Regions from separate parts of the Homo sapiens genome. Here region 1 is linked to region 2. The links come from fine-mapping of genetic effects on gene expression. A gene starts in region 2. The other region holds a variant in brackets. All regions are shown on one strand. Distances are from middle to middle. Region 1 holds the start of SNORA66 (small nucleolar RNA, H/ACA box 66). Region 2 holds the start of DIPK1A (divergent protein kinase domain 1A).

Region 1 (5,378 bases), 120 kb after region 2:
TATTTGGCCATTTTACATGTATTTCAGACTAACGGAAATACTTTTTAATCTTCATTATTGTAATACTACTATTTGAACAAAATAATTATTGTGATAAATACAAAATAGGATAAAATAATTAGGCCAGGCATGCTGGCTCATGCCTGTAATCCGAGCACTTTGGGAGGCTGAGGTAGGAGGATCACCTGAGCCCAGGAGTTTGAGACCAGCCTGGGCAACATAGTGAGATCCCCATCTCTAAAAAAAGGAAAATAATTTTTAGTTGACCCTTATTGTAACTTTGATGTAAGTACATTACAGTACAATTTTTCAAGTCCACATATGAGGCGGTGGTTTTTTAATGTATGAATGAGGAATAATTACATTGTTGGTTAACTATCTAAGGGGCCTGAAGGGGACAGGGGAGTTAGTGGCCATTTCCTAACAAACAGACAAGTATTTTAAAGTGGGTTTTACTGCAGTTACATAAAGCATGGTTCTAGTTCACTTAGGAAGTATCATAAATATTTGGAGATATAATACATTAAGTTCCTGTTTGGGGATTCAGTACCAAGATTATTTCTGGCATGGTTAATAATGCCCGTAAAGAAACTTAGTATGTTGCATGGGAGGTATTTTTCATTCCTTCTGTGTAACTAGCCAAATTCTTGACAGGCAAAATTGGGTGACCAAGGAAACCTCTCTGAACTGGTTAATCTCATCTTGACGGTGGCTGATGGAGACAAAGATGGCCAGGTTTCCTTGGGAGAAGCAAAGTCGGCATGGGCACTTCTTCAACTGAATGAATTTCTTCTCATGGTGATACTTCAAGATAAAGAACATACCCCCAAATTAATGGGATTCTGTGGTGACCTCTATGTGATGGAAAGTGTTGAATATACCTCTCTTTATGGAATAAGCCTTCCTTGGGTCATTGAACTTTTTATTCCATCTGGGTTCAGAAGAAGCATGGATCAGCTGTTCACACCATCATGGCCAAGAAAGGCCAAAATAGCCATAGGACTTCTAGAATTTGTGGAAGATGTTTTCCATGGCCCCTACGGAAATTTCCTCATGTGCGATACTAGTGCCAAAAACCTAGGATATAATGATAAGTATGATTTGAAAATGGTGGATATGAGAAAAATTGTGCCAGAGACAAACCTGAAAGAACTTATTAAGGATCGTCACTGTGAGTCTGATTTGGACTGTGTCTATGGCACAGATTGTAGAACTAGCTGTGATCAGAGTACAATGAAGTGTACTTCAGAAGTGATACAACCAAACTTGGCAAAAGCTTGTCAGTTACTCAAAGACTACCTACTGCGTGGTGCTCCAAGTGAAATTCGTGAAGAATTAGAAAAGCAGCTTTATTCTTGTATTGCTCTCAAAGTCACAGCAAATCAAATGGAAATGGAACATTCTTTGATACTAAATAACCTAAAAACATTATTGTGGAAGAAAATTTCCTACACTAATGACTCTTAGTTCATTTGGACATAATTACCATTTTAAGAAACCTGCCACTTTTAAAGAACAATTTTGAGCATTAAAAAAAAATGGCTTCAAATTCCGGCCAGTTACACAAAACTCCTTCCCCCCAGGCCTGAGAAGCCATCAGTATGTGATCACTGAAGTAATGGCAGGTGTAGGATCAACAGGTCCCCAAGATGTCATTCCTGCCCTTTTAGAAGCCCTGTTACATCTCCGAAGTACATTCATTGTGTAACTATTTTGACTGACTTTAAAAACCAATGCTGTGAAAAGCTTCATTCCATAAACATCAACAGTGAGTGATTTGTAGATTTACCTTAGCCAAAATACCAATGCTGGAAGCATTGTGTTTGCATTGAAGCTGCTGTTCAACAAGAAAATTTATAAATTTACTAATGTCTTAGCATGGTAAAGTTTGCACATTAACAGAAATTAAGACTGCAAAGCAGGTTAAACTTGCTTCTTTATAAAACAGATGTTGGGTTAATAGCATGGTTTACTGTATTAAAGACTTATACACCCATTTTTAACCTCATTCAGACATCAAGTTATGTGTAGCTTCACAATGGTTCAAGTGGCTTACTTCAAGAAATCTTATACTTGACAGTACACCAATTTTATTGACTAAAAATGGATGAACTTTCCTAAAGATTCAAAGGGCCCATCTTAGTATCACGCAGCTGACTGAGCCCTTCAAAACTGACATCTTAAGGCCCAATCAAGATCCACATATCCTGATTTTGAACTATGTGAAAGTGGGACTGT[A/TA]AGTGCAAGACTAAAATAAATTATAGCAGACTTTTTAGTAATAACTTTCCATTTTCAAACAGTATATCCTGTGGGCCAAAGGGCTATTTCTTAAAGAGGCATGTAAATGTATTTATTTATCTAATGTTTTTTTCCCCATGTAAACTTGATATACAAGGTTTAGTATTTGCTCCTCTTTCATATTATTTTCACACGTATACTCAGATTTGGCATGTACCTTTCAACATCTCCATAAAATTAAACACCTTTTGGAGAAAAGAACCACTATTTTCTGCTCAAAGGTTTCGCCTACCTAAAGTGGAACATGTTAAAAATCTATGTGACCATCACTGGACAGCTTTCTCTCAAAACTTTCCTTCAACGCCATGGATTAGCACCAGTTTTGTTTACTTTAAGGTACTTTTCCCATTCATCATCTGGTTATAATAAATGGATGGAAGAAATATTTCCCACTGATGGTTGGTCTGTTGCTTGCCAAATTTTTAGGGAGAGCTGTTCATCATACAACATAAGGGATAATGACTCCTGTCAGGTAAAACAGAAGCCCAAGAAATAACAACTTTTTTTCTTAAAAAGTTAGTTACACTTGTTTTCTTGGAGAAAAAAACCTGTCAACTCCTTTGCTTTTCCAAAATATTTCAGGGTATTTCCTATAAGGTTCATAAGAATAAGAGCTTAACACAGAAATAGTTGCTGTTCATAAGTTTATTATCTATATCTGAAAAAATCATAGAAAATTGCTGGGTTTAGCTCTCAGCAGCCCGCTCCTGAGCTCTGAGGAAGCTTGCCTTCTTTTGAGCTACCCGATCCTTCTTCTGAGCAAGGGACATTTTGGGACGGTTCCACCTACAAAAGATAGGAATATATATTTTTTAAACTATAACTGAAGAGAATAGAATATTTAATTTAAAATTTTAATAAAATTTAATTTTGATAGAGAATATTTAAGACTTTGCAATCAGAAGGTTAAATAATCCAAGTTCAAATACATTTACTTATGTATGATCTTAAGCTAACTTTCCCAAACCCCAACTTCTGTGATGTCCTACTACCATAGGGCCAAAAGTCAAATAGAAGACATGTTAGATTCAGTAATACCACTTCTAGGTATTTGCCCAAATGTTTTGAAATCAGTTTGTCCAAGAGAGTGGCACTCCCATGTTCATTGCAGCACTATATATTAATAGCAACAGATAAATGGATAAAGGAAATGTGGTATACATATACATAATGGATTATTACCCAGTCTTTAAAAATGATGGAAATTCTGTCATTTGCAACATGAATGAAGTGGAGAATATTGTGCTCAGTGAAATAAGCCAGGCACAAAAAGACAAATACTTCATATTCATATAGAATCTAAAACAATGGAACTCACAGAAGCAGAGAGCAGAATGGTGGTTACAGAGGCTGGTGGGTGCAAAGAATGGGCAGATGATAGTCAAGTATAAAATCTCCAACAGGAGGAGTATGATTTTGTTTTTAGTTCTATTGCACAGCATGATGAATATAGAATATCGTACATTTCACAATTAAGAGAATAAATTTCAAATGTTGTTGCCACAAAGTGTTAAGTATTTGAGGTGAATATGTTAAATACATTGATTTAATTACTATACATTGTATTTGTGGGCCATCACATCACTTTATGCTTACATGTTCATTAAGTATTACTTTCTATTCCATTTAAAGATCAAAACATGAAAGATCAACAAAAAGCAACTTGTCAGCCAATAAAAAAATGCAGTAACCAGTACTTAGACTGTACTAGGATAGAAAGAACCACCTCAGTAGTGTCTGAGGCTAACACATTTCCATCACCACAGTTACTTTTGCAAACCTGGTTCCCTTCGCTTCTGCCACATCACGCAGAGCTAGTGATCGAGTTTGCACAATTACACCAACAGTCTGCCCCACGTGGGAACCATTCCCAACCTGTTTTCTTGAAAAGACAAAAAAAAAGACGACATACCTCTTCTTTTTAACTTCTTTCTTGGGCTTCTTTTCATAGACTGGATTCTCTCGTATAGCAGCATGAGCTTTCTTATACATCTCCTCCATCTGAAACAAAGGAAAGCAAACAGTACTTGGTTTCATTTCATGTGCCCTACTATATTAATGCAACCATAACTTATCTTGTCCTTCTAAGCCAGATTCTCAAAAGGAACTAAACTAAATCAATGTTGGTAAACACTTTAACTTCTAAATGTAACTCACCTTTTCCTAACAAATTCCCAATTTTCACCTTATGCAATGTGAATTATCACTACAGAACTCCATCTTACTCAAGAAAAAAATCAGGCCAGGTGTGGTGGTTCATGCCTGTAATCTCAAGCACTTTGGGAGTCTGAAGTGGGAGGATCACTTCAGCCCAGGAGTTTGAGACCAGCTAAGGCAACACAGTGAGACCTGTCTCCATAAAAAAACTAATTAGCCAGGTGGCAATTATTAATGGTGGCATGCACCTGTAGTCCCAGCTACAGGACTACACGTGAGTCCAGGAGGTCAAGGCTGCAGTGGCACAATCACAGCTCACTGGACCCCAGCCTAGATGACAGAATGAGACCTCATCTCTACCAAAAATTAAAAAAAAAAAAAAAAAATTAGCAGGGCATGGTGGTGCACACCTATAACCCCAGCTACCTCGAGAGGCTGAGGTGGGAGAATTGCTTGAGCCCAGAAGTCTGAAGTTGCAATGAGCTATAATTGTGCCATTGCACCCCAGCCCAGGAAACAGAACAAGATCCTGCCTCAAAAAAAAAAAGTAAGAAAACAAAAAGAAAAATCTGCATGTACTTCTGAGAAATTCAGCCACACTTCTTGAGTCACTCTAAATCAAATTTTTGTCTGCAGAAACAAATATTGCGCTTCTCATTTTAAATACTGTCTGACCTAGATTCTTTCATTCAAGAACAAGTGCCAAAAGTATTAAGATATTAAGATGATGAACGTATGGGACCAAGAGTCACAACACTGACATAGCTTAACTGAGACCAAGGACTGGACACAGGCCAACAAGCAAATTCATCTGTCATCCCACAATCCCTAGACTTTTGTTTTCCATCTTTATCTCACAGGCCTTTAAAAGTAATTCCCAGCATTATGTACCAAGGACCTCTCTTCTGTCTTTCACTACCACC
Region 2 (5,378 bases):
ATTTACCATGCCTACCCACCTGCCTGCCTGTTTCCATAGATCAACAGTCTGTACTCGTCTACAAATGATCCTTCCACTTGTGTGTTAGTTTTCAAACGCTTTTTCCCTCTCAAGGACACCACTCCAGCACTTCTCACTTCTTGTTTCTACATGAATTTTCCCTTTTCTTCCGGATCATTCCCATTAAAAACAAGTATTTCTCCCCCTACCACCTTCTTTCTCTCTTTTTTTTTTTTTTTAAAGAAACAGGGTCTCACTCTGTCACCCAGGATGGAGTGCACTGATGCGATCATAGCTCACTACAGCCTTGACCTCCTGTGCTTGGCCTCTCCCCATTTTTTTTCAATCTTCTTTTGACTCTGCTTCTACTGTCCCAGATTTGGGCTCCCCTTTGTAAGAGAACTTCTCAAAAGAATTGTTTGTATTAGCCACCTCCAGTTTCTCTCCTCTCATTTTTTTCTTAAAACCACTCCAATCAAGTTTTTCCTCTATTGCTCCACTGAAGGGTTATCAATGGCCTCCATGTCACTAAATCCAACAGTCAATTCTCAGTGCTCACTCGCAGAGGAGCACTCCCTCTTCCTAGATCCACAAGCTTCACTCGGCTTCAGGGCACCTCACTCGGGTCTCCCACTTCACTGGCTGCTCCCTTTCAGTCTCCTTGGCTGGCTCACCCACTACCCTGTCTTAAAGCTGCATTGGTCCCCAGAGCTCCATCCTCAGTCGTCTTTTATTTACACTCACTTCCTTGGTGATCTTAGGCAGTCTCATGGCTTTAAACGCCATCTAAATGCTGATATCTCTCATATACCTCTAGCTTGGACCACGCTCCTTAATCCTAGACTCATTCATACATACAACTGCCTAATCAAGATCTCCACTTCAATTTCTAATAGATACCTTAAAATGGAACTTCTCCAAAACTGAACTCCTCTTTTGCCTCAAACTTCCTCTATTTGTAGTCTTCCCCATCTCCCTTGGTGTTTTCCCCATAACCTTTATTAGCATTCTTATCCAATTTGATTTTATTGATTACATTTATTATTTATTGCCCCTCTCTCTCACATCCACAAGCGCAAGGATTTTTGTCTGTTTTGTTTATGTAACCGAAACAACTTGAATGGTGCCTGGGTACTCATAAATCTTTATTAAATGAATGAATGAAACCACTAGGATTCATCCTTATCTTACTCAGAAATTACTGTCTCTTGACCCAAACAAAATCAATGAAAAATTGGTTTATCTGCAAGCAATAAAATAAGACCAAGTAGCTGTAGTTCCAGCTACATGGGAGGATGGCTTCAGCCCAGGAGTTTGAGTCCAGCCTAGGCAACATGGTAAGACCCCTCTCAAAAACAGAAAGAACAACCACCACAACAAAAATCACCTAGGTTTAAAACCTGTGTCTGTGTGTGGGTTGAGGGAAGGGGCAGACATGAAGGTATCTCTTCAGAACAAGGCACCTGAACAAGGCTTATGCAAAAACCAAGTGAGAATGAGTAATGGTTTGCTTCTGGGGAAACCCCTTCTCAGAGCAACAGGCCGGAATGAGCTCTAACGGGCCACCTAAACTTTGTTAGCATCACGCTTAAACGTGGTAGGTGGGGTAAAAAGCAGCCAAAAAAAAAAAAAAAAAAAAAAAAGCTGCTTCTTCCATTACAAGTCACTTGGATCAACAGCTGTTCTCCCACTAGGGTGGCTCTTTTTTCCCTTATTTGGAACTCATTGTCAAAAGAAAGACACCACACCCTGTGTTATGTAGCCTTAACCAAGCAGCAGGCCACGTCCCAGGCTCCCTGCCTTCAGGACTGTATTTAATTCGGTGTTTTTGTTTTTGTTTTCTTTTGAAATCAGTGTTCCTGGACGGGGCCAGGAAAACTCTGAAGCTGTCTTAAAAACAATATAAACCAAAAAAGTCGGAATTTTTTAAAAGTACATTTTTAAAAAAAGTTGTAGGCCGTTAGAGGCGAACTGGAGCGTGGTAAGGGGGGCACCGAGTTCAGCAGTGGGGCGCCCTGTCCGCGTTCGAAGCTGAGCCCAGTCCTGGGGGGATGCCCCGGTCTGCGTCTCCAGCTGCGGCAGACACCCCCTTCCCCCGACCGCCACCAAGGGCGAGGGAGGACGAGCCAGTCCCCAGGGAAGGAGCCCCAAGCTTCCCTTGAATTTCCAAACAACCCGTCCAGACACGTCCTGACTCCAGGAGAAGAGTCCATGGGGAGCGTCGGTGCTGCCGGGGCGGGTGGCGGGACGCGCAGCTGGGCGCAGCGCGGGGAGCCGGAAGCCGGAGCAGACTGCGAGGCCAGCGCGGTCCGGGGGTCGCCGCATCAGCCAGCGAGAAGCACGCCCCAATCCGCGCCGAGCGTGCGACACCCCCGCTGCCGCGGCGCCCCCTCCCGCCTCCGCGCGCCTCCCCTTTAAGCTCCAGGCGCAGTCGATTTGTGTCGGCGGAGGCGAGGTGCGACTCCCCTTTATGGCGGAGTCGGCAGCAGCCTCTCTGACAGCCGCGGCGGCCGGCGGGCGAACAGGGCAGGAGGCTGGGCCTCTGGCCTCTCGCCGCCTTCACTGCAGCCGGGCCGAGGGGAGCGCGGCGCGCGCCGCGGCGGGGGCGGGGGAGTGGGCGGGCCCGGCCGGGCAGGGGGCGGGGAGGCGGGGGGAGGCGGGGAGCCCGGCCGCCAGCGCTCGGGTCCGCCTCTGACTGCAGCGCGGCGGGGCGATGTGTGATTACCATGGCGAGGAGTCTCTGTCCGGGGGCCTGGCTAAGGAAACCCTATTACCTCCAGGTAGGCCGGCGGCCGCCCAGCCACCAGCTGCGGGAGCACCCGGCCGTGTGCCCTGCCGCGCCGCGCAGGACTCGCCCGCTCCCCTCCTCCCTCCCTGGGTCTGTGCCCGCCCGAACCCCGCTGCCCCCTGCCGTCCGGCACCTGGCGGCGCGCCCTCCCCAGCCCCCTCAGCGGCTCTGCCGACGCCCCCCACCGCGGCCCTCGCGGCTCCCGCGCCGCGGCCAGCCGGGCTCCAGGGCCCGAGTCGTCCCGCCCGGGTACGCCCTCGCATCCTGAGAGCCCCGAGACGTGACCTGGGTACGACCCCGCGCTCCGGGCATTGCCCGCAGCCCTGCGCCGCTCCAGGCGGAGCTCGACGGGCCGCCTTCTCCCTGGTGTTTTCGGGGCTTTCCCCCCTCCCCCGTGGGCCCCCGCAGGTCGGTTGCCCTTGACTCAGTGTCTTGGGTCTTAAGTCGGTGGTAGGAAAGGTGGTGTAGCATTCCTCCGTGTCTTAGAAAATTATGACAATTTGTCACACCAGTGTTTCCCCAGGCTCCAAAAAGCAGCGTGTGCCTCGTGCCGAGCCCCTTGGTTGGGTCGTTCCATCACACCCAAGATTTAAATGGGAGGTGGAGACCGATAAGCCTGAACCAGGCGGATGGGTGTTTGCTTTTTAAAGGAAAGGGGCTAGTGGCTGGTCTGTGGATCCCAAATACCCTAGTAATGCAAACGTAATTCTCAGTCATGTCGTGTGTACGGTTCGCGTGTTAATTTTTCATGATTTCCCGTTCCACCCTCTGTTCCGCTGCCAGTCTGTGCCTTGGAACCCTACTACTGCCTAAGTGTACTGTTTGGTCACCAGGGGGACCTAGTAGACACCGCGAGTAGCTGAGCGCAAATCCATCACTCCGATGGAAAAACAACTACAAATCAATGCCTTGCGTGGGTCAGCAGTGTTAGCCAACGCTGCATTCAGAGGACAGTATTCCTTTACCGCTTACATTAAAAGGCCAAGAGGTAGATGATTTGGGGTCAGCTGGTGCTTTTATAAATTATGAAAAAAGTTGAGAAGGTAACCATCATGAGGCAAGTAAATCTTACATTTTTGTTTGAAAATTGTATGTGTAAGTCATTACCCTGAAATGAGTGACGTATTGCAAATTGGAAGCATGATTTGACAACCCATGATATTAAGCGTGTACGAATAAAACTGAGTCTTTGTAGCAAGCACCACCAATAGTAATTGTGCACTTGAGTAACACTGTCACAACCCCTTCTAGAATTCAACCCAGGCCAGGTACCTCTGTGTAATCTTTTATGTGAGTTTAAAAAAAAGCTTACCGGCCAGGCGCGATGGCTCACACGTGTAATCCCGGCACTTGGGAGGCCGAGGCGGGCTGATTCCTTGAGCTCTGGAGTTTGAGACCAGCCTGGGCAACATTGTGAAACCCCGCCTCTACTAAAAATACAAAAAAAAAAAAAAAAAAAAAAAAGTTGGTTGGGTGCCTGTGGTCCCAGCTACTCCGGGAGGCTGAAGTGGGAGTATGGCTTGAGCCCCGGAGCGGAGATTGCAGTGAGCTGAGATCACGCCACTGCACTCCAGCCTGGGCAACAGAGTGAGACCTTGCCTCTTAAAAACAAAAACAAAAACAAAAAAACGGCCAGGCGCAGTGGCTCATGCACTTTGGGAGGCCGAGGCGGGCGGATCACGAGGTCAGGAGATCGAGACCATCCTGGCTAACACGGTGAAACCCCGTCTCTACTAAAAATACAAAATATTAGCCGGGCGTGGTGGCGGGCGCCTGTAGTCCCAGCTACTCGGGAGGCTGAGGCAGGAGAATGGCGTGAACTTGGGAGGCAGAGCTTGTGGTGAGCCGTGATCGTGCCACTGCATTCCAGCCTGGGCGACAGAGTGCGACTCCGTCTCAAAAAAAAAAAAAAAAAAAAAGTGTTTTACTGTGGAAATTTGTATACCTTCAGAAAACAGAAAACAATAATGAACTGTCATATGCCCATCAGCCACCCTCATCAGTATTTTATTTCATTTCACCTCCCCCACTCCCTCTTCCAACCAAACTTATTTATTTATTTATTCATTTATTTATTTATTTAGAGACGGGTCTCCTTCTGTTGCCCAGGCTGGAGTGCAGTGGTGCCATCTGGGCTCACTGCAGCCTGGACTTTCCAGGCTCAGGTAATCCTTTCACCTCAGCCTCCTGAGAAGCTGGGACTACAGGCGCACACCACCATGCCCAGCTAATTTTTTTAATTTTTGTAGACACGGAGTTTCGCCGTGTTGCCCAGGCTAGTCTCAAACTCCTGGGCTCAAGCAGTCCTCCTGCCTTGACCTCCCAAAGTGATGGGATTACAGGCATGAGCCATCAAGCCTGGCTGAACCAAAGTATTTTAAAGTAAACCTCAGGCATCACATCATTTCATCTCAGTACCTCAATATACATTTCTAATAGATAAAGATATTTTCAGACATAATCATAATACCATTATCATGCCTAACAAAGTTAATAACAATTTATTTTTCCCACCCCTTTCTAGATATGCATCAACCTGAGATTACTAACTAAATTTGATTTGCCATGGAGTGAGTTTACTGTGATTTGG

Evidence for each region. PIP is the estimated chance that this variant, and not a neighbour inherited with it, causes the effect.
Region 1: its variant is the best candidate, but not a certain one, in a credible set for the expression of DIPK1A in whole blood (TOPMed, PIP 0.56).

Annotation. Positions count from the first base shown.
Region 1 is chr1:92,839,472-92,844,849 of GRCh38, reverse strand. RPL5 (ribosomal protein L5) reads right to left here. Exons shown (of 8, transcript NM_000969.5): 7 at 4,211-4,299; 8 at 2,926-3,084. The coding sequence ends at 2,985. It overlaps DIPK1A (divergent protein kinase domain 1A), which reads left to right. Exons shown (of 5, transcript NM_001006605.5): 5 at 655-2,683. The coding sequence ends at 1,467. It overlaps SNORA66 (small nucleolar RNA, H/ACA box 66), which reads right to left and starts at 4,131; the gene lies at 3,999-4,131. The variant A/TA (reference allele first, on the strand shown) is at 2,239.
Region 2 is chr1:92,958,778-92,964,155 of GRCh38, reverse strand. DIPK1A (divergent protein kinase domain 1A) reads left to right here and starts at 2,694. Exons shown (of 5, transcript NM_001006605.5): 1 at 2,694-2,780. The coding sequence starts at 2,727. RefSeq lists silencers at 2,334-2,413, 2,574-3,133.